4 linked regions of the Homo sapiens genome follow. The protein of the gene in region 1 interacts with the protein of each later gene in a pairwise test. Each region holds a gene or a part of one and is shown on either strand. Other genes may lie near its edges. The genes, in order: LRP2BP, P4HA3, C1orf50 and CDKL3.

Region 1 (7,025 bases):
TTGCGAATGAGAAAGATCACTATTATTTTGTCTCTATATTTATTTATGATAAAATGTCATTTTTCCATGAGATATCAGCTACAAGGAATCTTAGAGAAGGAGTGTGTGTGTGTGTATGTGTGTGTGTGTGTGTGTGTGTAAGAGTAATGATCTGGAAGTCTCAATGCACTCGAGTTACAGACTCACCGCAGTCTCAGGTCAAGGGGTTTACTACTGTCCTCAGCAGTGGTAGTTTGCAGGGACTCGCTTGTGCCAGAGCATTAGCTTTATGGTAACTAGAGTAAACTGAAATTTTAAATTCTGCATTGGATTTATAGAAGACATATAAGCATAGCATGTTACCATGTATGGCACACGTCAAAGTTTATGATTTCTGAAACCCATCTTTAATGGCAGTTTAAAAAGTGCTCTTTACTTAGGGCCGATCTTTTATTATGTTCCTATTTTAAGATTCTTTTTATTTTTTTTTGAGATGGAGTCTCGCTCTTGTCACCGAGGCTGGAGTGCAATTTGCGCGATCTCAGCTCACTGCAACCTCTGCCTCCTGGTTTCAAGCAGTTCTTCTGTCTCAGCCTCCCGAGTAGCTGGGACTACAGGCGTCCGCCATCACGCCCGGCTAATTTTTGTATTTTTAGTAGAGACGGGGTTTCACCACGTTGGCCAGCCTGGTCTCAAACTCCTGACCTCATGATCTGCCCGCCTCAGCCTCCCAAAGTGCTGGGATTACAGACGTGAGCCACTGCGCCGGGCTAAGATTAGGTCAGGAGACTCCGTCTCAAAAAAAAAAAAATAATAATAATAATAATAATAATAATCTTTAGGAACTGGATTAAGTGTGGAGAAGAGAATACTAGTTGGGAATTTGGATCTTCAAGTGGTTGAAGGAATGTTACATGGGTGGTATTAAGAGATTTGAGACAGAAATACATGACCATTTGAGGATATCTCAAACCCGAGTCTGTTGAAATTTCTTCCCTTACACAAAGACAAAATGAAGTTCAGGCAATACAGACAAGCCAGAACATAAAACGAGAGCAAATACTTTTCTGCCATTCAACAGTTCTTAGTGACTATCACCTCCATATTAATTGCATTTTCCCATTACTAAAAAGAAATCTTGTTTAAATCCACTGTTGGGATGGTTGTGATTTATAAAATAAAGCCACATCCTTTAATATGTTTATAAAAAAAGGAATAGTTAAGGTATCTCTGAGACCTGTCTTCGATATGTATATTTGTTTCACAAATGAATAGCCTTGTACAATCTTATGCATATGGATCTTACTGTTTTTACTGTCACCTTTTGCCTTCATAGATGTCATCTATATACGGAAAGCCTTTTGCTAATTTTAACAATATTTAATTGTAGTTCTTGTAAATGATTTCATTGAGGCTTTTACCACAGGGTTTTAAAAATATGGAAAATGAGCTGAAGCACAAAGAAACAATTTGCTTTACTTTTCTTACGAATATTTTCATATAGCAATTGCTTTTTGTTTTATTACACATTCTGCATATGTATGTAGCAGTTGTTTTACTCATTAAGATCTTTGAGGGAAGATTTGGAGGGGCAAGATTCTAAAGCAATGTCTTATAACCCACTTTTTTGAAGTTTATATGTAATAAGCCAATTATTTATGAGCTTTTTAAGAATAAAGGATGTCTCAAAAGGCTTAGTGCAGTTTTAGCTTTAATAACTTCAGAAGTAGAAATGCTGCACACACTTATTTAAGTTTAATTCTTTAAATGTCTTTTACCCTTAGTTTTGTGAAATTTTAAATTTTTAAAATTTTAAATGACTGAAAATTTAAATTTTAAATGACTGAAACAAAATTTAAACATTATTATTCAAAATTCACAAAACTAAGAGACAAATTTAAAGAATTAAACTTTCAAATGATGGTTTTAAATAAGTTTGTTTCTACTTCTGAACTTACTAAACTAAAGCTAAACTAAGTATTTTTGGAGACTCGGTGTTTAAGAAAGGATAAACGATACTTGCTGTATAGAATGGTTTTAATACTTGATATGGTCTCGGCCAGTCTGTAGGGTAAGAGGTGGACCTCTGAGGACTCTTCCAGCAATTTGACCTTGTGTCTAGGTTTCAAGTTGCAAAACTTAACAGCGTACGAATTCAAGAACGAAGTAACATGTCACCTGTAAAATACCCAGGATAGTGTAATTTGTGATGTGCAAAATAACCAAACATAGCTACTGTAAAAATACACACATTGTGAGGTGTTAGCATTGATGATCTTTGTTGAAATACATTGTGGTCTAAATTCTTTGACGAATAAGTAAGGAGTGAAGTTCATCTGCCAATGCGGGATTCAGACGACAAGCCTTAAAATCAAAAAGAGTCAGATATTTAGATACATTCTAATTGTTTGGGTCTTTCTTCTTTTTTTTTTTTTCTTTTTTGATTCATTTTTAAGAATAGTAAAGTACAGTGAATTTCAAGAAAATTTGTTAAGATACTTTCTATTCTGATGTCCTACTTTAACCTATGCAGAATAGATCAATACTCAAAATAACCATGTTATTCTCATTTGAAAGAGATATTTTATCAATGCCAAGAATAAAGGGAACTTAAGCACCAATGATAGCATTGTATGTTATGAATTATTAAAATAAGTAAAATGGAGAGCATTAACATTTGGCCTCAAAGTTGTTATGATCTCATTATGTGAATAACAGCATCTGTAAAATTTTATTTTAAAATATACAGCTAAAATAATTTTATTATGTCTAAATAGTGACAAGGTGCATAATTTCTAGAATGTCAACAATTTGGGATATAGAGCTCTCATCCAAACCCCATTCTATGCAGTAATTGTCCCTTCAGTACCCACGACAGTTGGTCACTAGGTATTTGCTTGGTTGCTTCCAGTAGCAGGAAGTTACACATTCTACATATGTAGAAGTTTTCACCTTCAGAGAAAACTTGTGTTTTTCTTTGTTTCCTGAACTGTTGTGTTAGAAAACTCTCCCTTATGGCCGGGCGCGGTAGCTCACACCTGTAATCCCAGCACTTTGGGAGGCCGAGGTGGATGGATCACGAGGTCAGGAGATCGAGACCATCCCGGCTAACACAGTGAAACTCCGTCTCTACTAAAAATACAAAAATTAGCCAGGCGTGGTGGTGGGCGCCTGTGGTGCCAGCTACTCGGGAGGCTGAGCCAGGAGAATGGCGTGAACCTGGGAGGCGGAGCTTGCAGAGAGCCGAGATTGCGCCACTGCACTCCAGCCTGGGCAACAGAGCCAGACTCCGTCTCAAAAAAAAGAAAACTTTCCCTTATTTTAGGCTGGTGTTTCTCTCCATGTACTCCAGAATCCTCGAAGGGTCCTAACAGAATACATAATGCTGGTTTCACAGAAACCTAACACTCTAGGAAGTGGGAGTCACCCTGCCTGACGGTGGCAGAGCCGAGAGCAGGCCTGGGTCTGTCGCCTCCAGGTCCCAGTTACCATCTTACTGCCTCACCTTCTGCCATAACACACTGCCTGCCATGGGCACTGATTCTGCTCCCTCCCAACCTGTTCCCTTCCTGCGGGACACTGCCTCTCCCTCCCAACCCGTTCCCTTCCTGCGGGACACTGCCGGTCCAGTGAACACCGCTGTCGGGACACCTTGTGTCCTTTTGCTCTGAGGGAGACCATTTCTGTTCCTCATATCATGCGTCATATGATATCATTCCAGACCCTTCACTGGTTTACTGCCTCTAAATGATCTCCATTTTATCAGTATCCCCATAATGTACAATGGCCTAAACTGAGTACAGTATTCTAGATGTGTATCCTAGAGTCCTAGAGTACAGTATCCTAGTTGCAGAGTAATGGGGCTATTTTCTCCCATCGTATGGAAAATCGTTCTCAGATTGGAATCTGTTTTGTTTTTTTTTTTTTTTTGAGATGGAGTCTCACTGTGTTGCCCAGGCTGGAGTGCAGCGGCACAGCCTCGGCTCACTGCAGCCTCCTCCTTGCAGGTTCAAGCGATTCTCATGCCTCAGCCTCCCGAGTAGCTGGGACTATGGACATGCGTTACCATGATGGGCTAATTTTTGTATTTCTAGTAGAGATGGGATTTTGCCATATTGGACAGGTTGGTCTCACACTCTTGGCCTCAGGTAATCCTCCCACCTCGGCCTCCCAAAGTGCTGGGATTACAGGCATGAGCCACGGTACCTGGACTTTTTTTGTTGTTCTAGTCAGGATGACTATATAGTATATTTCAAAATATATTTGACTAGAGTTTTCTAAGGATATTAAGGATAGGATAGAACCTGAAATCGGCTTGGTTTGGAAATTGATGTAATACAGAGAGCTTTTTTTTTTTTTTTTTTTTTGAGACAGAGTCCCAGGCTGGAGTGCAGTGGTGTGATCTCGGCTCACTGCAACCTCTGCTCCCAGGTTGAAGCAATTCTCCTGCCTCAGCCTCGCGAGTAGCTGGGTTTACAGGCACACATTGCCATGCCTGGCTAATTTTATTTTTCAGTAGAGACAGGATTATTTAGTATTTTTAGTAGAGACCCAGTTTCACCATGTTGGCCAGGCTGGTCTCGAACTCCTGACCTCAAGTGATCTGCCTGCCTCAGCCTCCCGAAGTGCTGGGATTACAGGCATGAACCACTGTGCCTGGCCAGTACAGAGAACATTTAAATGAAAAAAGTTAGACAACTGTTATTCATGCTAAGAATGGTGTAGAGGTAAATATCTTAAAGATCAGTTGCATTTGGCTGTGTGCTATGTGTCTATGTTTATGTTTTAATATGGCTTTGATGCTCTGGAAGTTTTAATTTTAAAGTAATTTAGGGTTCCCAAACTTACCTGACATTGGAATCCCACAGGGAACTTCAACAAATACGCTTCTGTCTCCTAGAGACCATGATTGAAATTTTCTGAAATAAGGCCTGAACTTTGGAATTTGTAAAAGATCCTCGGGTGATTTTAACATGCAGAGAAGCTTGGGAACCACTGCTGTAATATCAGAGTCAGCCAAGGGACTCAGAAGACTCCCCCACTCAGGCTGAACAATCTGTGTTCCACAAACACTGCTCTACCAAGTCTGCTATGATGTAATTCTGACTCGTGGATGTGATGGACCTAAGATGTGCACAGCTTTTTGGTTTTTCTTTTTTTAAAAAAAATCTAAACTTAAGAGTTAGTACTCATAATGATCTCCCTTACACCCCCTCCACTACCACACCCCTTGCTTTTTAGTATTTACTTTGAGATGTGAAACGCATTTGGGATCTAAATAAATTGATCACATGGATTAAAATATGAAAGACTTATTTTAACTGATTACCTCAAACTCAAAAATATCCCGCCTAAGTGGGGTAGATGTCACGCTCAAAAAAACTTTAAACTCTGTACTAGAATAAAAAACTTCATTACTGTACTAGAATGAACGTATACATTCACACTTGTTCTAGATGAAAGAAAAACTGTTCAGCTTTAAGGTCTTGGTGCTGGGCCTTAGGCTGCAGATAGTAGCAGAATGAAAGAGTAATTTGCATCAAAATAGGACTTTTAATCATTGGAGCTAAATTATGCTAATAAGATTCTGACAGAATTGTCTGCAAACAATCTGCATGTCTGACAGCTTCTCTGTAGACAGAGGTTATCTGCACAGTAATTGAGTAGAAAAAACACTAATCCGTAAAACTATTCAAGTTGCAGCTAAAAGCCTGGCAGTTTCTCTTTGGGTGAATTTATATTTTGTTCTAAAGCTTACTTTAGAATAATAGTGTTTAGCGGTTGTTTCATCCCTGGTGATGCCCAAGCCAAGCTGAAGACACCTTGCGTGGTAGAAGGATGCCATTGCCATGCCTCTGCCGATGAACTCCGGGAGACAGTCTGTGACCTGGGCGATCATGGGGATGTCGTGAACCTCATCATAGTCAGCGATCCTGAGAGGATGTAGAGTTGTGAAATGGAAAAGACATCAGTTATGGTAAGTGTTTGTAAAACGATGCGCCTAGAGACTGTCCTTGTGCCTGAAGTGATTTCTCTCTACTGCTTTGAGAACTAAGTTGTTTGCTGTGTGGGGAAGGGTCCATGTAGGCACCTCATACCAGGAGAAGATGAGCTTCCCAGAGTGGTGACTTCACATGTCTCTGTAATTATGCTCAGCAGGCTCAATAACCACTGGAAAACAAAGGTATGTTTCTTTTTTCTTCTAATATTACTACTGGAAGTTTAATGTCACTTTGTGGATTTAAACTGAACGGAGAAGAAAGCATTTTCTATTTCTTTGGATCACGTATGGAAACATCAACCTTCAGTTTGGACGTTAGCCACATAGGACCAGAAAACCCTTTCACTAGCACATCTTCTTTAAAAATAGACAATTGGCTGGGCGCGGTGGCTCACGCCTGTAATCCCAGCACTTTGGGAGGCCAAGGCAGGCGGATCACGAGGTTAGGAGATTGAGACCATCCTGGCTAACATGGTGAAACCCCGTCTCTACTAAAAAAGATACAAAAAATTAGCTGGGCATGGTAGCGGGTGCCTGTAGTCCCAGCTACTCGGGAGGCTGAGGCAGGAGAATGGCGTGAACCCGGAAGGCAGAGCTTGCAGTGAGCCGAGATCGCACCACTGCACTCCAGCCTGGGCAACAGAGCGAGACTCCGTCTAAAAAAAAAAAAAAAAAAAAAAAGGATAATGGAAAGAAGTCATCCTTTATACCCAGACACAAATATGTACAATTGTGTGAGAATGTGATCCAGTCAACTCCATGTTAACCTCAATGTCATAGGGAGTAGGGATGTGGAAAATAAGGGAAAGCGCCGAAGATTTTAAAGAATGATTTAAAGTCTTAGTTCTAACTAAGATGGGCACTTGCTTTGAGACACTGGCAATCACTCCTGTAAGTGGTCTGCTGCCTGGAGCCCGAGACGCTGGGGAAGCGGGGTAGAAGCAGCCCCTCCTTCCCTTCATCCTCTCTTGTAGATGACTGCCCTGAGCTAGGGCTCGGAGAGGGGGGAGACCTGGCGCTGTGGGAAGGGTGTGATTGGGAAACA
Region 2 (7,025 bases), on another chromosome or scaffold:
TGCAATAAACATCTTCAAAGTTAAAATGGATTTGCTCCATTGCTTTTTATAGCAAAGGCTGGCAAAGAGTATATTACAAAATGATCTCACGTGTGATTACAACTTATAATCAAAGATCAGTTAAATACCTCAGATGGGGGGCGGGGGTGTTCCTGAAGTCTATTTCCTCAAGTAATGTTAAAGTGAATGGCCTTAGATTTTGGACACTACTTTAATTTTGTACTTCCAAATGCTTAGGAAATGTTGCATTGGATTCCAGAAAGTCTCAGGAGGCTGTTTCCGTGATCTTACCTTTCCATCACCATCTCTTATCCTTTTCCCCAACCTTGCGTCCCTGACCCCCTGCTTTCCCTTTCTACCCAGGAGTTCATGCACTGGCAGGGTGCTATAGTTAGGGTGAACAAAGGACCATTTTTCCTAGTTCATGTCTGTTGTTCTAGCATAATTAATAACACCCCTTTCAATCTCAAGAGTGTTCTAAGTATATAAACACCTTAACTACTATGGAAAGGGCCTGAGATTTGGAGTCAAAAGACTGGGTTCAAGCTTTAGTTCTGCCCTTAAAATTGCATAATCTTAGGGCAAGTTATTTACCCTCTCTGAATCTTGTTTTCTTTCTCTGAAAATGGAAATGATATCAAATTTCCAAGTTTACTGTAAGTATTAAAAAGAAGTAAAATCAATCGGTACATAGTTATTTTATCCATAAGAAACCAGAGCCAAGCAATTGGCCCTCTCTTGAATATTGTTACCTTGCCAACTTGGAAGCAGTCATCCCCTGTGAGAGAAAAGAGCCGTTTGGGGCTGTACAGGTCAGTGATGGCAGAGCCAGTGACTCTCTGAAAGACACCTCGGGCCAGGCCTTTCACATTGAGCATGTACACGTCCTGCAGCCGCATCAGGGCCCTTGCTGCTCCCTCAAGGTCCTCAAAGGCTGGAAGGTCTTGCTCCACCTTCTCATAGCCATCCTTCAGAGCTGTAAAAGTAGTAAAAACATCAACCCAGCATTCAAGAAACAGGAGTTGGGCATTTAATACATGTAAGGCATGACCACCTGTTCAAATATTTAATGACATCAAGTTGGATTTGTCTTTGTGTTCCCAGAGGCAAGCACAGTTCCTGGCACAGGGTGGATGCTTAATGCAATTCTGAATGAGGAACATTCAGAATGAGTGAATGAGGAATAAAAATTAAGGCATACAGCTTCATTATATTGTCCTATCCTGTATGTTTACAGGAGTCTCACTCTTTAGGGAGACAACTCTTCTTTTTCTTTTTCTTTTTTTCTTTTTCTTTTCTTTTCTTTTTTTCTCTTCTCTCCTCTTTTCTTTCTTTTCTTTCTTTCTTTTAATAGAGATAGGATCTTGTTCTGTTGCCTAGGCTGGAGCACACTGGCATGATCATAGCTCACTATAATCTTGAATTCCTGGGCTCAAGTGAGCCTCTCACCTCAGCCTTCTGAGTAGGCAGGACTTCAGGCACACGCCATCACATCCATCTAATTTAAATAAATTTTTTTGTAGAGACAGGGTCTTGCTATGTTGCCCAGGCTGGTCTCAAACTTCTGGCCTCAAGTGATCCTTCCAACTCAAGCTCCCAAAGTGTTGAGATTATTGGCATGAGCAACCACACCCAGACTCTTCTCACTGTTAGCTTTCCAAAAATCAACAAACTTCTTTTTTTTTTTTTTTTTTTTGAGACAGGGTCTTGCTCAGTCGCCCAGGCTAGAGAGCAGTGGCGCAATCTCAGCTCACTGCAACCTCCACCTTCTGGGTTCAAGCAATTCTTGTGCCTCAGCTTCCCAAGTCTACAGGCATGCGCCACCATGCCTGGCTAATTTTTGTTATTTTTAATAGGTTTCGCTATATTGCCCAGGCTAGTCTCGAACTCCTGAGCTCAAGCAATCTTAGCCTCCCAAAGTGCTGGGATTACAGGCATGAACCACTGTGCCCAGCCCAAAAGTCAACACTTTTTTTTTTTTTGAGACAAAGTCTCGCTCTGTCACCCCAGGCTGGAGTGCAGTGGTGCGATCTTGGCTCACTGCAACCTCTGCCTCCCGGATTCAAGCAATTCTCCTGCCTCAGCTCCCGAGTAGCTGGGATTACAGGCATGTAATCCCACGACTCCCCGGTAATTTTTGTATTTTTGATAGCGACAGGGTTTCACTATGTTGGTTAGGCTGGTCTGGAACTCCTGACCTCAAGTGATCAGCCCACCTCAGCCTCCCAAAGTGCTGCAATACAGGTGTGAGCCACCGCGCCTGGCCGTCAACAAACTTCTTACAGCACAAAGTAGAATAAATTAGGAAAGTGATCTTGCTATAGATGACACTGTAGTGACAATTTAATGAAACAGAAACTACTAGAAGACCGTTATTTTCTATACATATATAAATGGAAGGCTTGTACTTTGTCACAGGATTGTAGTGAACATCAAATGAGACAATTGATATGAAAGTGCTTTCTAAGGTATAATCATATAAACTGATTAGCAAGCGGGCCTAATTCTTTGTGCTAGCTAGAGCTAAGGATATTAAGTAATACCCACCTACTCCATTACCCTTTGAAATCACATCCCAACAGAATCTCTCTCCTTACCACCGAGTCAGGAGATAGAATCTTCTCTCTTACCCTCCAGCCCTCCTCCTCATTACCTCGGATGTTCTCACTGGCCTCCAGACTATGTACCACATTCCTCCAGTCAGACTGCAGGCGTTTGATGAGAGTAAATGCAAGCAGAGGGTTAGCCACAGGGGTTGTTGAATCCTCATGCAAAGAAAGTACCTTGTCGTAGAATCTGAAAGAAAGGAGTAGAATGATCTCACCTCCTGATACAACCACTACACCTAGGGAAGGCTGGCATGGTGTGTGTACATTAAGAGTAGCTAACACTGACATGCTGAACCTCTTGAGATTCACATAATAGTCCAACCAAAAAGCCATGCAAGCCCAAAGAATATGAAAACTATAGATACAACAAAAGTAGGTCCACTCTTTTGTTCACTGAATGAGTCAGTCTATATTAATCAATTACTGTATTTCAGGCACCATGCTAGAGATATAAAGGCAAGACAGGGTCCAGCTCTCAAAGGGATCACAAAGTCTTTTTCTCCTGTCATCACTGTATATGCAATACTTAGTATCTGGTAGAAACTCAAAAACACTATTGAATTAATTATAACCACTGTGATATGTGCTATATAGTGGTCCCCAACCTTTTTGGCACCAGGGACTAGTTTCATGGAAAACAATTTTTTCCACGGACCGGGGGGTTGGGGGATGGTTTCGGGATGAAACTGTTCCACCTCAGATCATCAGGTACCAGTTAGATTCCTATAAGGAGCACACAACCTAGATCCCTCACATGTGCAGTTCACAATAAGGTTCACGCTCCTATGAGAATCTAATGCCGTGGCTGATCTGACAGGAGGTGGAGCTCAAAGAGTAATGCTCCCTTGCCCACCACTCACCTCCTGCTGGGGGGCCCGCCTCCTAACAGGCCATGGACTGGTACCGGTCCCTGGCCCAGGGGTTGGGGACCTCTCTGCTATGAGAGAAGTGAGCATATAATGCTGCAGCTGTGCAGGCAGGGCAGCTCATCCAGGTGGGAGTTAGAAGGGGGAAGGAAAGGCTTCCAAGAAGAGATGGCATGTGATCTGAATCTTGAATGATTTGTTAAAATACTGAAAGCTATTACTTATTGAGCTCCTACCATGTATTGGCCTGTTGGGTGCTCTAAATAGATTGTCTCATTTAATTACCCCCCACCTTCCAACCGACCCTTAGTGTAGATTTAATTTTACCCATTCCACAGAGAGGAAACTGAAACAAAGCCACACTGTTAGTAAAGGGCAAAGCCAGGATGGAACCCAAGTCTGACTAACTCCAAAACCTGGGTTCGCAGCTGATTATGCTATATGGTTTCTTAAGGAGCTAGAACAAAGAAGAGAAGAAGAGTATTTTTCAAGCCAACAGGAACCATTAGTGTACAAAGGCACAGAGGCTTGAGATATATTTGTAGTAAGTCAATCTACACGAGTTATTTGCTAGATGTCAGACTCCATGCTAGATTCTAGGGATACAAAGGCAAGACGAGGTCTAATACTCAAGGATTTCATGGATAAGAAAATAACTTTTTTTCTCATCATTCTATACCTAAATTCAATACATATTTCTATGAAAGAAAGAATGAAGTATACTCTCCTAGGAGCTAGGGACAAAATTCTGAATAAGGAAATAATCTTGGTCTCAAGGATCCACAGTTTAGTGAGTAAGAAAGACACAAATAATTACATTACAGATGCAATACCAGATTTAAGAACAAGGCTTAGTGGGGAGGACAGAGAGGGGATGATTAATTTGGCCAGAGCAGGTTAGAGAAGGCTTTAAGTGAGAGTGGTACTGTTGAAACTATGACTTGTTCACATATATAAATGTGTGAGAGGGTGGGGAGGAGGCCACTTCAAAACTGCAAGCACAAGACAAGGAGACTCTGAACCACGACAGCGATGGAGAATGGACTGGGTTCAAGGAAGGAGTTTAGGAAGTGGTGATGACTGTAAAGGGGAATAAGAGGTGGGATCGTCCAGCACACTTCCAACCTTTCTAGCTTGGCAACAAATGCAGAAAAGGGCAGAAATGGTAGGGCCTGAAGTGATCATCTTTCCAGTTAATTTCCCTTCTCCAGTGTCCTTCAACAGTGTTTATATAGGCAAAAGATGCTGTTTCCTTTCCTAGTATACTCTGGTTAATTCCATTTCTAAAACACCAATGGAATTTATATTACTGAAATTTATTATCTATAACAGGGCAGATTAAGGTACTATTCCTGCTCTCCAAGAGTTTTCCCGCTCGTTTTAAAATTATCAACTTCAAAAATAGTATAACAAGAATGGAAGTAGAAGAAAAAAAAGTTTGTGCAAAGTGAAAAAAAATGAACGTGTGCAAGAGCACAGGAGACTATGAGTCCTTTGGCAAGAGTGGGCGACTTCTGCGAGGAGACAGAGATGAAAGTGAAAAATAGAGGAAGTGGCAAGGTGGTAGGATTTCAACCCCTTGGAGCAGAGTCTTATCTGAGGATTTCTAAAGAGTGAGGTCCTCAACTATGAAATGAAGCCTGAAATAGAAGACGACTGCCTTGAGGCTTCCAAGGAGCCAAATGTTCAATTCAACATAAACTAAGGAACAAGAACCTGGACCTGGGTCTCCCAGTGGGGAAATGGGAAGCCTGTCAAGTCCCAGGGTGTCTCTGATCCCAAAGACAAGGCAGTCTGTGAGCTGAAGCTCTAGGGTTTTGAAATGAAACCAGCCTCCAGGGTGTGGGATCTTTACTACCCATTGTCTCCTGCTTTGGCTCCGTATGGAACTACTTAGGGAAAGATACTCCACTGCTTGATGAAAAATCTTAACAAGCGGAGACTTGGGCTTGAGTCCAGCTTAAAGAGTAGGTGTCCAGGAACAATTGAGGCTGAGAGGGCAGTGATTTTATAAGACAGCTGGATAGGAAGGAACTGGGACTTATTCTGACCCAGCCTCCAACTATCACTCAGTTTCCTCATCCATAAAATGAAGGAACTGATCTAGTCTAGAAGATTTCTATGGATCTTTTCAGCATGAACATTCTGTTATTTCTTCTCATCACCCCCTCCACAACTGAATAAACAGATTCCTCATTAGCTTGAGGACTAATGTTTAATAGGAATCAGAGGACACTGAGGCACAAAGGTAAAGTGGTAAAGCAGAGAGGTGAATATTTGCCCCAAGTCATGCATCAAATCAAAAGTGCTGTCTACTTCCTTGTTTTCTTAGCACCCCTCTTTGCATTTTGGGGTTGATTTGTTTAGGTCAGGGTTTGATCTCTATTGCAGCACATCAATTCAATCCAGTGTTTAGATATGCCATTTTTCTGTCACACAAAGAAAAAAAATCTCTCAACTGATAACTGAGGTTGGCTTAGAATCCAAAAGTTGGCCCTATGCCCAGCCTCTGAGCACATAGCGGTTTCCAGAGACTGGAAACTGAGTTACTGGATGCTGAATTCAAACCTCAGGGTTTCCTAAATGTCTTTTTGCTTTAACAAATACTGCTGAGAATGGAAAATCAGATCCTTTCCTTCAAGAATCTGCACATAAAATTTGCAACCCAATCCCTGCATTAAACATAGCCTGGGCAGGTTATCCAACCACAATACATGGGCTATTTCACTTCAATATGTTTTGCCTTTGGAATTCAGAAATGGTTTTGTATCAGTTCTTCTGGGACATTATTAATGCTTAATCCTTAGCACAGAAAAAATTGCTGCTGACACTTCTCTCTCACTCTTGGTGGTGTTTTAAACTGCAAAAACAGCAACAACAAAAGCTAGGATAAACTCTTTTTATATATATAACTAGTATATGTACCATACTGGCATATAACTATATATACTATAACAAGTATAATTTTTATTCATTAACTTGGAGTAGGGAGTAGTTTCAACCTCAAGAATACTGCATTTTTCTATCTCAACTGAGAGCCTTGGAAATAGCCTCTCAAGTTACATAAAATCACCAGATTGGGAGTATAGAAAAATTAGCAAGAACTGCCAAAATTCTTGTTTTAAAAGGCAAACATAAAGGCTGGGCACGGTAGCTCATGCTTGCAATCCCAACACTTTGGGAGCCCGAGGAGGGAGGATCACTTCAGGTCAGGAGTTCAAGACCAGTCTGGGCAAGAGAGCAAGACCCCGTCTCTACCAAATCAAACCAAACCAAACAAAAACAAAAACAAAAAAACCCTAGCCAGGCATGGTGGTGTGCACCCGTAGTCCTAGTTACTTGGTAGGCTTAGGCAGAAGGATCACTTGAGCCAGGGGTTTGAGGTTATAGTGAGCTATGATAGAGCCACTGCACTCTAGCCTGGGTGACAGAGCAAGACCCTGTCTCTTAAAAAGCAAACATTTCACTGGGTTTTAGAGCAGTCACTAGAGAACAGAATGACAGAATGACAGTCTTCAAAATATCAAACTAAACTACAAAATTAACTGTT
Region 3 (7,705 bases), on another chromosome or scaffold:
AAATCCCTGCCTCCCTGAGCCCTCCACTCAGCGTGCCCAGCCCCTGCCAGCCCCAGGAAGCACACCTATTGCAGGAACTACCCACGACAGATTAGGAGCATAGTGCCCTGGGCAGATTTGTAGCTCTTTCCCAAGTCAGATTTAGGGGTTCCCCAGATTACAGGAAGTAGCAATGTTCCATTTTAAAACAAAGGTCATATTGTATGGGGAGTGCTGTGAAAGACTGACTGCCCACATAATATGTTTTCATGCTGGGTGCGGTGGCTCAGGTCTGTAATCCCAGCATTTTTAGAGGCCGAGGCAGGTGGATCACTTGAGCTCAGGAGTTCAAGACCAGTCTGGGCAACATGGTGAAACCCTGTCTTTACGAAAAATACAAAAATTACATGGTACTATATGCCTGTAGTCCCAGCTACTCTGCAGGCTGAGGTGGGAGGACGCTTGGGCCTGGGAAGCAGAGGTTGCAGTGAGCCAAGATGGTGCCACAGCACTCCAGCTTGGGTGACACAGCAGGACCCTGACTCAAAAAAAAAAAAATACATATATATATTTCATGAATCAAATGTAATGCCTGAGCTGAAGAAATTCTGTGGCTTCAAGGATTTAGGGGTAGAGAAAAAAGAGCAGCTAACAGACTATGCCTAAGAATTTTCCTAGAAAAAAATTTTTTTTTGCATAAAATAAAATGAAGAATTTTTGAGACATTTAGGGAAAAGGTGGATGGCTAAAAATTCTAAGGTCCTTTACTAAGTCCAGACATAGTATTTTCTGACTCAAAGCTCAGGGCTCATGAGGTTCAAACAAATAGCTCTAAGAAATCTGAGGGGGTGGTCGGGGGCGGTAGCTCATGCCTGTAATCCCAGCACTTTGGGAGGCCGAAGGGGGCAGATCTCTTGAGGTCAGGAGTTTGAGACCAGCCTGGCCAACATGGTGAAACCCCGTCTCTACTAAAAATACAAAAATTAGCTGGGCGTTGTGGCGCACACCCGTAATCCCAGCTTCTTGGGAGGCTGAAGCAGGAGAATCGCTTGAACCCGGGAGGCGGAGGTTACAGCGAGCCGAGATCACAGCACCATACTCCAGCCTGGGTGACAGAGCGAGACTCTTGTCTCAAAAAAAAAAAAAAAAAAAAAAAAAAAAGAAATCCAAGGGGGGAGAAATAGGCTACAGACCACAATGCCCACAGCAATGGACTCCAGCATGTCAAAGTAACACAGGTTTCATATATAGAATCCAACCAAATAAATCACTGATGATCTAGTAATTAACTATGTGGACACTGGTATCAAAGAGACCAGCCGTGGCCAGGCACGGGGGTTCACGCCTATAATCCCAGCACTTTGGGAGGCTGAGGCGGGCGGATCATGAGGTCAGGAGTTTGAGACCAGCGGATCATGAGGTCAGGAGTTTGAGACCAACAATAGCTGGGCGTGGTGGCATGTGCCTGTAATCCCAGCTACTCAGGAGGCTGAGGCAGGAGAATCGCTTGAACCCAGGAGGCGGAGGTTGCAGTGAGCCGAGATCGCACCATTGCACTCTAGCTTGGGCAACAAGAGCGAAACTCCGTCTCAAAAGAAAAGAGGGCTGGGTGCGGTGGCTCACGCCTGTAATCCCGCACTTTGGGAGGCCGAGGCAGGTGGATCACAAGGTCAGGAGATCCAGACCATCCTGGCCAATATGGAGAAACCCCATCTCTACTAAAAATACAAAAATTAGCCGGATGTGATGGCACGTGCCTGTAATCCCAGCTACTCGGGAGGCTGAGGTAGGGGAGTCACTTGAACCAGAAAACCAGAAGTCAGAGGTTGCAGTAAGCCAAGGTCGCCACTGCACTCCAGCCTGGCAACAGCGAGACTCCATCTCAAAAAAAAAAAAAAAAAAAAAGAAAGAAAGAAAAGAGACAGGCCAGCATCACATCTGGGCTTAATGACTCACTGACTGGCTGGGCAGTAGACAAGATACTTAAAGTTTACTTTCTAAACTCAGTTTCCCTAATCTATCATCTGGAGATAGCATTCTCTAGCTATCTCCTAGCATTGTTGAGAGTTCAACGAGATAATATGCAGCCTGTAATACATGGTGCTGGGCACAGATTAAGTGCTCAATAAATTTTAGGTGGTATGATTAATATGCTAAGAAAACTTATTTTCTTATCATTGGTACTAGTAAAGGCACACTAAAGGAGTCAGCCCTGGTTAGGTGACCCAAGGTAAATAACTCCCCATCTCTGTACCTCAGTTTCTTTAACTGTAAAATTAGAAATTTTTTCAGGTCTGTCCCTTTCATGGAATTACTCTAGCTCTTGTGTCTTTCAGCGCTGCTCCTGCCTTTCTCTGTTCTCCCTCATGTCCTCACTCCTCTCTCCACCCCCAGCCTTCTTTACTCTCTAAGCACTGAGGTACTTAACCTCCTCTCTTGTGGACAAATGTCTGCCTCCTAATCAAGTGCCACCACTTTCTCCTTCTTCCAAGGCTCATTCACCATGGCTTCCAGAATAAGCGTTTTAAAACCCAAATCTGAGGATGGCTCCCTGCAGTCCGCAGAATTCTCTTCCAAATCTGGCCTCACTGACTTTTCTAGCCGCCTCTCCTACTACTCCCCACACACATCTCGACATTGCAATCACAAGAGTTCATTTTTTTTCCTGAATACATCATGCTTTGGTTCTACTTTTCTCTCTATCTGGAGGAGCCTTCTTTCCTCTCCCCCTGGCAATACTTAGGGCAGGCTTCAATATTACCTCTTCTTTGAAGTCTAATTTCTCTGAGATAAAGCTAGAGTCTCCCTCCTTTGTGCTCCCGCAGCCCTAAGTATATGCCCTTGCAGTAGCCCTTACTACAGTAACTCTTAACAGCAAAGCAAGACAAAGCAAAGACGTTAGTCGAGCATTTAATTACTTGTACAAGAACTGGAATGCAGTAGGTATGCAATACATGTTTGTCAAATAGTTTTAGAAAGTGCTATGATGAAGCGACATAACCAAAGACATAACGCAATTATTTTGATTTCAAGTCCAGCGCTCTTCCGAGTAACTAGGAAAAATGAGGGGAACTGTGTAGGCAGAATGCTGTGGAGGGGTGGAAATCTGAGGTCCCCAAGAGTCTCTAAGTGTCTCTTTAGATCGAATCGAAGGTCTTTTAAACAACAGATATACCAGATATAATGCACAACTCTTTCTCCCCCCACCCCCAATACAGTGGGACTAATAACAGCATCTACCTGACAAGATATTATGAAGATTAGGGCAAATGCGTTAATAAATGCAAACTGCTTAAAATAGTGCCTGGAAGTATGTGCTGGCTATCATCATCATCATCATCGTCACCATCACCACCACCAAACAAGCCTGGAACGCTCCAAGCCCAAGTGTACACTTGGACACATGGCACTCTGGCATTCCGAAAAATACTCATTTTCTTTGTAAACCTGGCAGACTAGCCAGAGGGTCCCCCCCCCGCCCCCACACACACACAGAAAGGGCCAGGCAGCCCCTGCTGGCGACGTGGCAACCTCACATCCTGAAAGAGAGCTGCTGAATCAAACAGCAGGAAAAGCACCACTGGAAAACCAACCGGAAGGGAGATATTGTAGACCGCTACTAGCTTCTCACTCGGACACTTACAATGACATCAGAATGGGAGACCCAAACTGCCGCTTTAATTCCTTCCAGGAGATTTCCCAGGGAACAAAATGGCCATGAGTTTTGCTTGGCCTGTGCCCTAACCCCAGGCTGGACCTTTGGGGTTAGCATCTGCCCATGCGAACTGGGCGAGGAAGGTCTCCTGCCAGGGAGCAGCTCTCCCCGGCTCCGAGGAGAGCTCCCCAGCCAGGAGGCCACTTTCCCCTCCCTGCGGACACTTCCCCGATCCCCCAAGCTCCTCAGGTCCCCTGCAACACTCCTCTCCCCAGAAGGACCCCGGCCGCCTGGTTCCAGGCAGGTCTGCACCTTGAAGTAGGCGACCTGCAGGTAGTTGTAGGGGCTCCGCTTGCGGAACTCCAGCTCCATCTCTTCGCTGAGCGAGTGGGCGGCCGGCGGCCCGAGGCAGCGGCGCAGGCAGGCAGCGCGACGCAGAAGGCCCCCGAAGAAGCTCAGGTCGCGCAGGGCGGCGGCGCCCGAGGCCTGGGCCGGGCTGGGGGACCAGTCGGGGTCCAGCTCCCACGGGAAGTCGGCGGCACACTGGGTGCGGCAGCGCAGGCGAAGGGCGCGGAGGGCTGCCCGGGAGCGCAGCGCCCGTTCCATGCTCAGGACCACCCCGGGCCAGTCCCCGCGCGCGTAGGCTGCGGTCCCCTCGGCGAAGAGCAGATCAGGCGTCACCATGCCCCATCCTGCCTCGGACTCGACCTCGGCTTGGGAGGCAGCGGCCACGACAGCCAGCAGTGTGGTCAGCAGCTTCAACGCGCGTACCGCCATCGCTCCCTCAGACCTAACGGAACCGCCAGCCACCCGCCACCAAGGCCGGAGTCCTACCCCCGGCGAAGGCCCGCCCCCGGGCGAAGCCCCACCTTCCAAGCCGGGCGGCGCATGCCCACGAGGCTTGCACCGCCTCTTTTCCTTTCAGTCAGCCCGGATCCCCCCACCGGCCCTCAGCGAATCCCGGCGCGTCAGCCGGAGCCCCGCCTCCGAGCTCAGGCCTTGCTCAGTCGAACTGACGCCCAGTAGACAAGAAAGACGGAAGCTCCGCCCACGCGCCTTTATGCGCAGGCTCTTCCTACTCGCACAGCCCAGGGAGTGGGGAGGATAAGGCGCTGTCATGGAGGACGCCGCCGCGCCGGGGCGGACCGAGGGGGTCCTTGAAAGGCAAGGAGCGCCGCCAGCTGCAGGCCAGGGAGGTATGCGGGGCGGGAGTCAGCAGGGGGAAGTCAGCTCCCGCGAGGCAGCCGGTCTCGGGGCTCCGCGGGAGGCCGACGGCGGGAGCTCACGGCTTGTGTTCCTGGGTGTGTGTCGCAGGAGCCCTGGTGGAGCTCACCCCGACCCCCGGCGGCCTGGCCCTGGTGAGCCCCTACCACACCCACCGGGCCGGGGACCCCTTAGACCTCGTGGCGCTCGCAGAGCAGGTGCAGAAGGTGAGGAGGCGCGGCCGGGGCAGCGAATAACCATCTTCGTTCACGTTGTACTCTGCGTCTTTCGGCTCAGACCTCACTACCACCTATGGTGGGGGTGGCATTTGCTCTTGTCTCCATTTTACAGACGAGTAAAGCCGACTGTCATTGTGAGTCGGTGGCCTGATTCGAATGACCTTCTGGGACCAAAGGTTCCTCTAACTGCAACTTGAGTGCCCATAATCTTCCTTCGTGGGAAGGTTTACACAACACTTTAGTGTTCATTATTTCATTTGCACCTTAGGACAGCCTTGTGAGGTAGGCAGTACAGAGTTATTCTTCCCATTTGACACAAAGAAAAGTTCTTCGGGAAGTTTCAAGGTCCGCTTATTTTAAGCTGCTTCCCATAAGATCTTTGTTACCTGAGAGTTTAAACATCTTCTAGCAGGGCAAGGACTCCAAGTTTAGTCCTCATTAAACACAGTATTCCCAAGCCCAGTGTTTATATATGGATGGCCAAAATAAGTCAAATAAGGAGGAAATGTGAAATAATGGAAAAAACACTGGAAGTTTGGACACATGAGTATTAATCCCACTTTTGATACTAACTTGCAGTGCGACTTAAGGCAGATTACTTCTCTCTGGACCTCAACTATTTTATCTGTGAAGTGAAAGGTTTGAAGTAGTAGAGCTCCAAGATCTAAAGTTTTGTCATTATTCAATGAAAAACCAGATTCCTTCTTATCTCTTATCAAGACTTCCAGTTGTACACCCTCTTCAGTGTCCACAGATGGAGGGTCCTGCTGTTTTAAAGATTATCATGGCCCCTTATCCCTGTATACACTATCAGATTTGGCCTTGATTATGTTCCAGGGTCTTTGCTTTGCCCAAAATTATTTAATGTGCTCAAATTCCCTCACATCTCTTTTTTTTTCAATGATCCTAGAAATCCTTCGAATCCTTTTTTTTTTAAAATTAAGAAAAATTCAGATACGCAGAAAGCTCCTTTAATTCAAAACTTGGCTTTCTTCTTTTTGAAGAGCTGGGGAGCAAAGTGCAACTTTTATTTATTAAGAGAATATGCATCTAGTTAATCAGATTACTCTTATTGGGAGGGAGGTTGGCAGGGACAGAATCTTGTGCACACAACGTATTCATGTGCTATTGAATGACTATCGTGTTTATTACGATGGCCTGAACAGATGGAAGAAAGAACACAGTTTTTGTCTTTCATCCTATAATCTTATGAAATACAGAGGATGCATTATTATGCTGCCTCTGTTTCCCCAATACAATCTGTATTTGAGAAGCTGAAGAAAAAAAAAACTTTAGAGACAAACAAATTGAATCAAACATATTAACTATCTAAAATGTACTTTTTGGCCAGGTGCCGTGGCTCACACTTGTAATCCCAGCACTTTGGGAGGCCAAGGTGGGTGGATCATTTGAAGTCAGGAGTTCGAGACCAGTCTGGCCAACATGGTGAAACCCCGTCTCTACTAAAAGGTGTGGTGACTCATGCCTGTAGTCTCAGCTACTCGGGAGGCTGAGGCATGAGAATCGCTTGAGCCCAGGAGACAGAGGTTGCAGTGAGCCGAGATCGCACCACTGTACTCCAGAATTGGTGACAGAGTGAGACTCTTAAAAAAAAACAAAAAAATGAGGCTGGGTGTGGTGGCTCACGCCTGTAATCTTAGCACTTTGGGAGGCTAAGGCGGGAGGATTGCCTGAGCTCAGGAGTTGGAGACCAACCTGGGCGACATGTGAAACCCTGTCTCTACTAAAATACAAAAAATTAGCCGGGCATGGTGGTGTGTGCCTGTAGTCCGAAGCTACTCTGGAGGCTGAGGCGGGAGAACTGCTTGAACCTGGGAGGCAGAGGTTGCAGTGAGCTGAGATCACACCACTGCACTCCAGCCTGGGTGACAGAGCAAGTCTAAAAAGAAAAAAAAATGGTGGTGGGCTGGGTGCAGTGGCTCACGCTTGTAATCCGAGCACTTTGGGAGGCCAAGGCGGGTGGATCACGAGATCAGGAATTCAAGACCAGCCTGGCCAACATAGTGAAACCCTGTCTCTACTAAAAATACAAAAAATTAGCCGGGCATGGTGGCAGACGCCCGTAATTCCAGCTACTCATGAGGCTGAGGCCGGAGAATCACTTGAACCTGGGAGGCAGATGTTGCAGTGAGTGGAGATTGTGCCACTTCACTCCAGCCTGGGTGACAAAGTAAGACTCCGTCTCAAAAAAAAAAGTACTTTTTTAGCAAGACTGACCCAGGTATTGGTGTGTGTTCAGAAAGCTCAGGAGGCCTGGTATTAAGGCATGAATTTTGGAATCTGACCTGTGTTCAGATCCTTTGCTGTTTATTATCTGTGAAACCTTGGACAGGTTGCCTCATGTCTGTGAGTCTTAATTGCTAAAATGAGAAAGTGAGGTTATCATCTCCAGCGTCATAAAGGTGTTGTGAGAAGTAAATGAGATGAATGTAAAGGGCCTCAGAGTAGTTGAGGCCAGGGTTAGTGCTTAGTAGTTGTAGGTACTCTTCCCTTCCTTTCTTTTTTATGAGGCTCTTTTGTTTTTAAGTTGTTCGTGAAATATTTTGCATTTTTTTTGTTTGTTTCTTTTTTCCTTTTTTTGGACCTCAGACTAATCCATATTTTGCAT
Region 4 (7,025 bases), on another chromosome or scaffold:
TTAAAAATATTTAAATAAGTATGTATTCTATTTATTGGAATCTATTTACATCCTTTAAGGTTTATGATCTTGACGATATAGTATAGCTGTTTCATATGCAGCAGATGTTCTTGTTTGCTTTATCTGATACAAAAATAATATTTTCTTCTTTCTTTGTAAGTCTATATGAGATATGATGGATCAATTTGCCTTCTTTCTCTCTCTTTTTTTTTTTTTTTTTTTTTAAGAAATGGAGTCTCCCTGTTGCCCAGGCTGCAGCGCAGTGGCATGATCATAGCTCACTGCAGCCTCCATCACCTGGGCTTAAGCGATCTTCCTGTCTTGGACCTGTGAAAGAGCTAGGATTACAGGCATGAGCCACTGTGCCTGGCCTAATTTGAGGAAATATATTAGGCATCTGTGGATTATTAGAATGGCTCTACGCTGGGCGCGGTGGTTCACGCCAGTAATCCTAGCACTTTGGGAGGCCGAGGCGGGCGGATTGCCTGAGCTCAGGAGTTCGAGACCAGCCTGGGCAACATGGTGAAACCCTGTCTCTACTAAAACACAAAAAATTAGCCAGGCATGGCAGTGTGTGCCTGTAGTCCCAGCTACTCGGGAGGCTGAGGTAGGAGAATTGCTTGAACCCAGGAGGAGGAGGTTGCAGTGAGCTGAGATTGCGCCACTGCACTCCAGTCTGGGCGACAGAGTGAGACTCTGTCTCAAAAAAAAAAAAAAAAAAAAAGCCGGCCATGGTGGCAGGGGCCTGTAATCCCAGCTACACAAGAGGCTGAGGCAGGAGAATCACTTGAACCCGGGAGGCGGAGGTTTCAGTGAGCCGAGACCACGCCACTGCACTCCAGCCTGGGCAGCAGAGCGAGACTCCATCTCAAATAAATAAATAAATAGAACAGCTCTATTTCTAGACAATGAAAAGTGAGTCAGTAAAGATGTTATGATTTTGTGAAAGATATCAGTTCATGTCCTGATGACCTAAAACATAATACTATAGATAAGGCAATTGTGTACTGTGAATGAAAATCTGATTAGGAGATTTTTTTCCCCCAAGGCAGTATCTCTTGCTCTTTCTTCAACTGTTGCACTTAAATTGATTATTTTTTTTCTATTTAATCATTTTGGAAAACTAACCAGTATGTGACAATACAGAGATGAACTTGAATATGTGTTTTACTGTAACAACTGTTATGCAGATAATTTTGAGATACCCTAACTATTCTCATTGGCTTTTTGTTATTGTTGTTGTTATTGTTCTGAGACAGTCTTACTCTGTCTGTCGCCCAGGCTGGAGTGCAGTGGCACGATCCTGGCTCACTGCAACCTCTGCCTCCCAGGTTCAAGCAATTCTCATGCCTCAGCCTCCAAGTAGCTGGGATTACAGGCACGTACGACCACGCCCAGCTAATTTTTGTATTTTTAGTAGAGACGGGGTTTCACCATGTTGCCCAGGCTGATTTAGAACTCCTGGCTTCATGTGATCTGCCCACCTCAGCCTCCCAAAGTACTGAGATTACAGGTGTGAGCCACTGCACCTGGCACTCACTGGCTTTTTATAGGATTTTAAATTTGATGTAATCTAATTCCACTGGAGAGATTTCTTGGACTAGTTAATATTCTTAGTCTAAAAAACTTGTCATAATTACTTAATTCAAATTACTTTTTTTTTAGACAGAGTTTCACTCTTGTTGCCCAGGCTGCAGTGTAATGGCACAATCTCAGCTCACCACAACCTCGGCCTCCCGGGTTCAAGCGATTCTCCTGCCTCAGCCTCCTGAGTAGCTGGGATTACAGGCATGGACCATCATGCCAGGCTAATTTTGTATTTTTAGTAGAGACAGCGTTTCTCCATGTTGGTCAGGCTGATCTCGAACTCCCGACCTCAGGTGATCCGCCTGCCTTGGCCTACCAAAGTGCTGGGATTATAGAAGTGAGCCACCGGCCTGACCCAAACTAAATTTTTATGCTAGAATTTCATTAAATAAATTACAGTTAGAGTAATTAGTGAGAATATCTGTAGAAAAGTTGTCTAGTAATGGAGAAAAAATTAAACAACTTGAAGAGGGGTACTAGAGCATTTCTAGGGATTTCATTTCATGGTTTATCTGAGTAAATACTGTACCTAATTCCTCATCCCTGAATGGATCTTCTACAATGCTTATTCATATTACCCCTTCCCTACTTTCACTGCTTTTGCCTTTAAAATAAAGACTGGACAGGAAACCAGTAATTTTCCTTAAGTAGAGGATTAATATGGTAGTGTCCAAAAGCAATCAATTCCTTGAGACGGAGTTTCACTCTTGTCACCCCGGCTGGAGTGCGATGGCACAATCTCGGCTCACTGCAACCTCCACCTCCTGGGTTCAAGCGATTCTCCTCTCTTAATCTCTCTAGTAGCTGGGATTACAGGTGCCCACCACCACGCTGGTCTAATTTTTGTGTTTTTAGTAGAGACGGTGTTTCACCATGTTGACCAGGCTGGTCTCGAACTCCTGACCTCATGTGATTTGCCCGCCTCAGCCTCCCAAAGTGCTGGGATTATAGGTGTGCACCACCATGCCCAGCCAACAGTCAATTCTTTTCACTGCTGTCAATATGCTATTGCTGCAGCACTGTGGCATCTTGCCAACCAGGGAAATTTGGAGCAAAAAGGAAAGGAATCTGGTGTTATATTTTGGATGTTTTTCTCTAGTCATGTTTTAAGGACTTTAGTCTCTTCGTTAGTTACAGAGAAGTAGAAAAATTGACACTGTGTTATTGGAATGAAGGCAAATATATTTTCATAAAGGTATAGTTTTCTAGAGCTAGGAACAGTGGCTCATGCCTGTAGTCCTAGCAACTTGGGAGGCCAAGGCAGGAAGATCACTTGAGGCCAGGAGTTCGAGACCAGCCTGGCAATATAGCAAGACTTGTTCTCTTAAAAAAAAAAACAAAAAAAAACCCTTCATTTTTAGCTAATTGAACACATATTCTTGATAGTTTGAACAAAATGGTTAAATATTTCAGAATTGATTATAATTAAGTCAGTGTGATGAAAAATAGAATAAGTAGCATACAATATTAAATCTCATTTGTTTCCTAAGCTGATACATGGGCATCATTTACATTTTAAAATTATTTTAGCAATAATTGTTGCCAGTCTAAAAAGGTGGTTAATTGTTTAATAGAAGAGTACAGACAAGGAGCAAACGTTCACCCACAAATAATTACATATTTATGTAAAGTTTCTGTGGTTATAAATTGGTAGTTCACATATCTGAAGATTTTGCATATATTTTGGTGTTCTTTTGTTATAGTCTAATGAATTTATGATGCTCCCTAGAACTTATGGTTTACTTTCTAGAGTTTAGGTTTAAAATTAGAGAATAATTAATTTATATAAATTCAGATCACATACTTAATCGTGTTGAAATCCATGCTCATTTGAAAACATAAGGGCCTTTTAAATTTTGGGTGTTAAATTTAACCACAAACCAAGTTTAAAAATAGCAGGATATCTTTCAACAGAATACTAAGTTATAGTACATTAAATTATTTTAATAAGCAACCAAATGCCAACTTGAGATAAAGTAATATATCTCACTTTGTCCTATAAATATTGATTATAAAATGGATTACATTTTCTTAAAATAGGAATGGAAGCACATTGGTTGAGAAATTTCAGTTGAAATGCATGGAACATAGGCTGGGCATGATGGTGCACACCTACAATTCCAGGAGTTGGGGAGGCTGAGGCAGGAGGATCACCTGAGGTCAGGAGTTCAAGACCAGCCTGGCCAACATGGTGAAACCCTGTTTCTACTAAAAGTACAAAAATGAGCTGGGCATGGTGGTGCACGCTTGTAATCCCAGCTGTTCAGGAGGCTGAGGCAGGAGGATTGATTGAAATAGGGTGGTGGAGGTTGCACTGAGCCAAGATTGTGCTACTGCACTCCAGCCTGGCGACAGAGCAAGACTCCATCTCAAAAAAAAGAAAAAAGAAATGCATGGAACAAAGCTAAGAATATGACTGTTTCTTTACAAAATTTACACGTTATATGTACAAATTGTTAGGCTTGAAATAATTAAAAATTTGTGTTGTTTCTTTTGTCAATAGCAATTTCATCACGAAAACCTGGTCAATCTGATTGAAGTTTTTAGACAGAAAAAGAAAATTCATTTGGTATTTGAATTTATTGACCACACAGTATTAGATGAGTTACAACATTATTGTCATGGACTAGAGAGTAAGCGACTTAGAAAATACCTCTTCCAGATCCTTCGAGCAATTGACTATCTTCACAGTAATAATGTAAGTGCTTCAGAATAAGCCAATTTGTAGGATGAATATGAATCATAAGTGCTCCTTATACATTGTTTTATTTTTATGAAGGTGGCTAACATTCTTTTTCTATACAATAATAATAGACATCCTGAAAATGGGGATAGGGAATAGGGGGCACTACCTTTTAGTTGCAGAACCAAAAAATATTGAGCACTCAGTAATTCCAACTATAAGGCAGACCAAGTATGGGATGGTAAAGGCAGTATCAGTAATTTTGTTTAGTAGAATCAGTAGTCAGCTGGAGCACTATTATTAGAGAAAGTATATTAAAACATTGAAAGTCAGGTCTGTGGCTTAATGGAGAGTTGCTCATATAAAGGGAGGTTTAGCAAGACTCCGCCTCACAAAAAAAAAGGCGGGGGGAATAGTAAGTAAATTGTGGATGCCTTTAGGGGAAGAAAGGAGATATAAAGTGGCGGAGCGGTTTGAGGCCTTGTCATTTAACCTATGAAAAATCAAGGAAGAGGAAAGATCACAGCTATTCTGATGTTTAGTGTTGACTTTAGCATTGGCTTGTAAGTGTTTAGCTCAGCAGGTTTTTTGTTTGGTTGGTTGGTTGGTTTTTGAGATGGAGTTTTGCTCTCGTTGCCCAGGCTGGAGTACAATGGCATGATCTTGGCTCACTGCAACCTCTGCCTCCTGGGTTCAAGCAATTCTCCTGCCTCTCCTTAAAACATCTCGGTGTTTGTCCGAGATGACGGTGCTCCTCCTCAATCAACCACCACACCTGGCCAATATTTTGTAGAGATGGGGTTTTCCCATGTTACCCAGGCTGGTCTCAAACTCCTGGGCTCAAGTGATTTGCCCGCCTCAGCCTCCCAAAATGCTGGATTACAGGTGTGAGCTACTGCACCTGGCACAGATTTTTTAAAAGATCAAATTAGGTACTAGGTATAAAGCATTTAAACTGTGTCAGGCACATTTTAAGTGCTCAGTAGATAGTGCTGGTAGGCTGGCTATAGTAGCTCACACCTCTAATCTCAGCATTTTGAGAGGCTGAGGCAGGAGGATCACTTGAGCTCAAAAGTTCAAGCCCAGCCTGGGCAACATAGCAAGACCTTGTCTCTACTAAAAATAAAAAATAAATTAGCTGGGCATCAGGCATCGTGCACAATCCTGTACTCCCGGCTACTTGTGAGGCCGAGGTAGGAGGATTGTTTGAGCCTGGGAGGTCAAGGCTGCAGTAAGCTATGATTGCACCACTGCATCCTGGTTGACAGAGCAAGATTCTGTAAGTAAGTAAATAAAATAAATAAATAAATAAATAAATATAGCAAGCTGGTTTGGAGTGAGGAATATTAATAGTTGTGTTAAGGAAAGAAAAGAAAAAAAAGGAAAAGAAAAGAAAGCTGGTAGGGAGTCAAGAATAGTGGTGTTATCTTTGTATCTGTTTAGAGCCTTGTCTATATTAGACTCTAAAAATGTTTCTTGAATAAAAGGAGATCTCAGTCTGGGCTAAACTGACAGTAGAAGACTTCCAAGATGAGGTAAAACTAAAGTAAGTAGAATTTTGAACTGTAGCTAGGATTTTGTTGGAGTAGAGGAGAAAATGCATTCAGGTGGGGTACCATTGTGAAAATAGAAGTAGACCGGAGCAGGGGACTTCAGAGAGTGCTGTTAAGTCAGGTTACAGGGAACAACAGATAGAGGAAGATAAGATTACACAGGTTCACAGGGGAGAGATTTTCCAGAACCTTGAAATTTACCCACAGGAGGGTGGACTCTTTCCTGAAGATCCTGGGAAACTACTGAAGATTTTGTTGTTTTTTTATTTTTGTTTTTCTTGAGACAGGATCTTGCTTTGTTGCCCAGATGGGAGTGCAGTAGCATGATCATAGCTCACTGCAGCCTCCAACTTCTGGGCTCAAGTGATCCTCCTGCCTCAGCCTCCCAAGTTGCTAGGACTACAGGCACATGCCACCACATCCAGCCCATTGAAGGTTCTTGAGCATTGCTGTGACTGGATGAAAACAAAATCTAATTTTATTTTAACATGAGTAGAAGATATGAGTAGATAGAGACCCAGAGAGATCAGACAGGTAGCTGTTGTGACAATCTAGATGTGTGGGTGGTAACGGTTTGGACTAAGTAGCAATGGGAAGGAGAGGAAGGATGGCAGAGGGATAGGATGGAAATATTTCAAAAGGAAAATCACAGGACTTGGGAAGTAATTAGATATGAGAGGGATGAAAACAAAGGGTGAAGTCAGAGGTTATTACAGTATTTTTTTTTGAGACAGAGTCTCTCTCTGTCACCCAGGCTGGAGTACAATGGCAGGATCTCGGCTCACTGCAACTTCCGCCTTCTGGGTTCAAGCGATTCTTCCTGCTTCACCCTCCTGAGTAGCTGGGATTACAGGCTCCTGCCACCAGGCCCGGCTAATTTTTGTATTTTTATTTTATTTTATTTTATTTTATTTTATTTTGAGACAGAGTCTTGCTCTGTAGCCCAGGCTGGAGTGCAATGGCGTGATCTCACTGCAGCCTCCTTCTCCTGGGTTCAAGTGATTCTCCTGCCTCAGCCTCCCAAGTAACTGGGTTTACAGGTGCGTGCCATCATGCCCGGCTAATTTTTGTATTTTTAGTAGAGACGGGGTTTCACCGTGTTGGTCAGGCTGATATCAAACTCCTGACCTCGTGATCCGCCCACCTTAGCCTCCCAAAGTGCTGGGATTACAGGCGTGAGCCACCGCGCCCGGCTTACATTT

Evidence for each region.
Region 2: the proteins of LRP2BP (region 1) and P4HA3 interact in binary tests that used the Homo sapiens proteins (3 or more experiments, as listed by UniProt).
Region 3: the proteins of LRP2BP (region 1) and C1orf50 interact in binary tests that used the Homo sapiens proteins (3 or more experiments, as listed by UniProt).
Region 4: the proteins of LRP2BP (region 1) and CDKL3 interact in binary tests that used the Homo sapiens proteins (3 or more experiments, as listed by UniProt).

What each region holds. Positions count from the first base shown.
Region 1 is NC_000004.12:185,364,903-185,371,927, forward strand, and holds part of LRP2BP (LRP2-binding protein), read right to left. Parts: intron 6,164-7,025; exon of another isoform or gene 6,056-6,163; intron 5,957-6,055; exon of another isoform or gene 5,913-5,956; coding exon 5,738-5,912; exon of another isoform or gene 5,733-5,737; intron 5,284-5,732; exon of another isoform or gene 4,893-5,283; coding exon of another isoform or gene 4,848-4,892; intron 2,344-4,847; coding exon 2,278-2,343; 3' UTR 1-2,277. UniProt on the Homo sapiens protein: May act as an adapter that regulates LRP2 function.
Region 2 is NC_000011.10:74,301,617-74,308,641, forward strand, and holds part of P4HA3 (prolyl 4-hydroxylase subunit alpha-3 isoform 1 precursor), read right to left. Parts: intron 2,797-7,025; coding exon 2,654-2,796; intron 977-2,653; coding exon 753-976; intron 1-752. UniProt on the Homo sapiens protein: Catalyzes the post-translational formation of 4-hydroxyproline in -Xaa-Pro-Gly- sequences in collagens and other proteins.
Region 3 is NC_000001.11:42,762,561-42,770,265, forward strand, and holds the start of C1orf50 (uncharacterized protein C1orf50), read left to right. Parts: upstream 1-4,688; 5' UTR 4,689-4,751; coding exon 4,752-4,830; intron 4,831-4,948; coding exon 4,949-5,064; intron 5,065-7,705. Other genes in the region: P3H1 (prolyl 3-hydroxylase 1 isoform 3 precursor), read right to left, coding at 3,947-4,411.
Region 4 is NC_000005.10:134,357,157-134,364,181, reverse strand, and holds part of CDKL3 (cyclin-dependent kinase-like 3), read left to right. Parts: intron 1-4,090; coding exon 4,091-4,285; intron 4,286-7,025.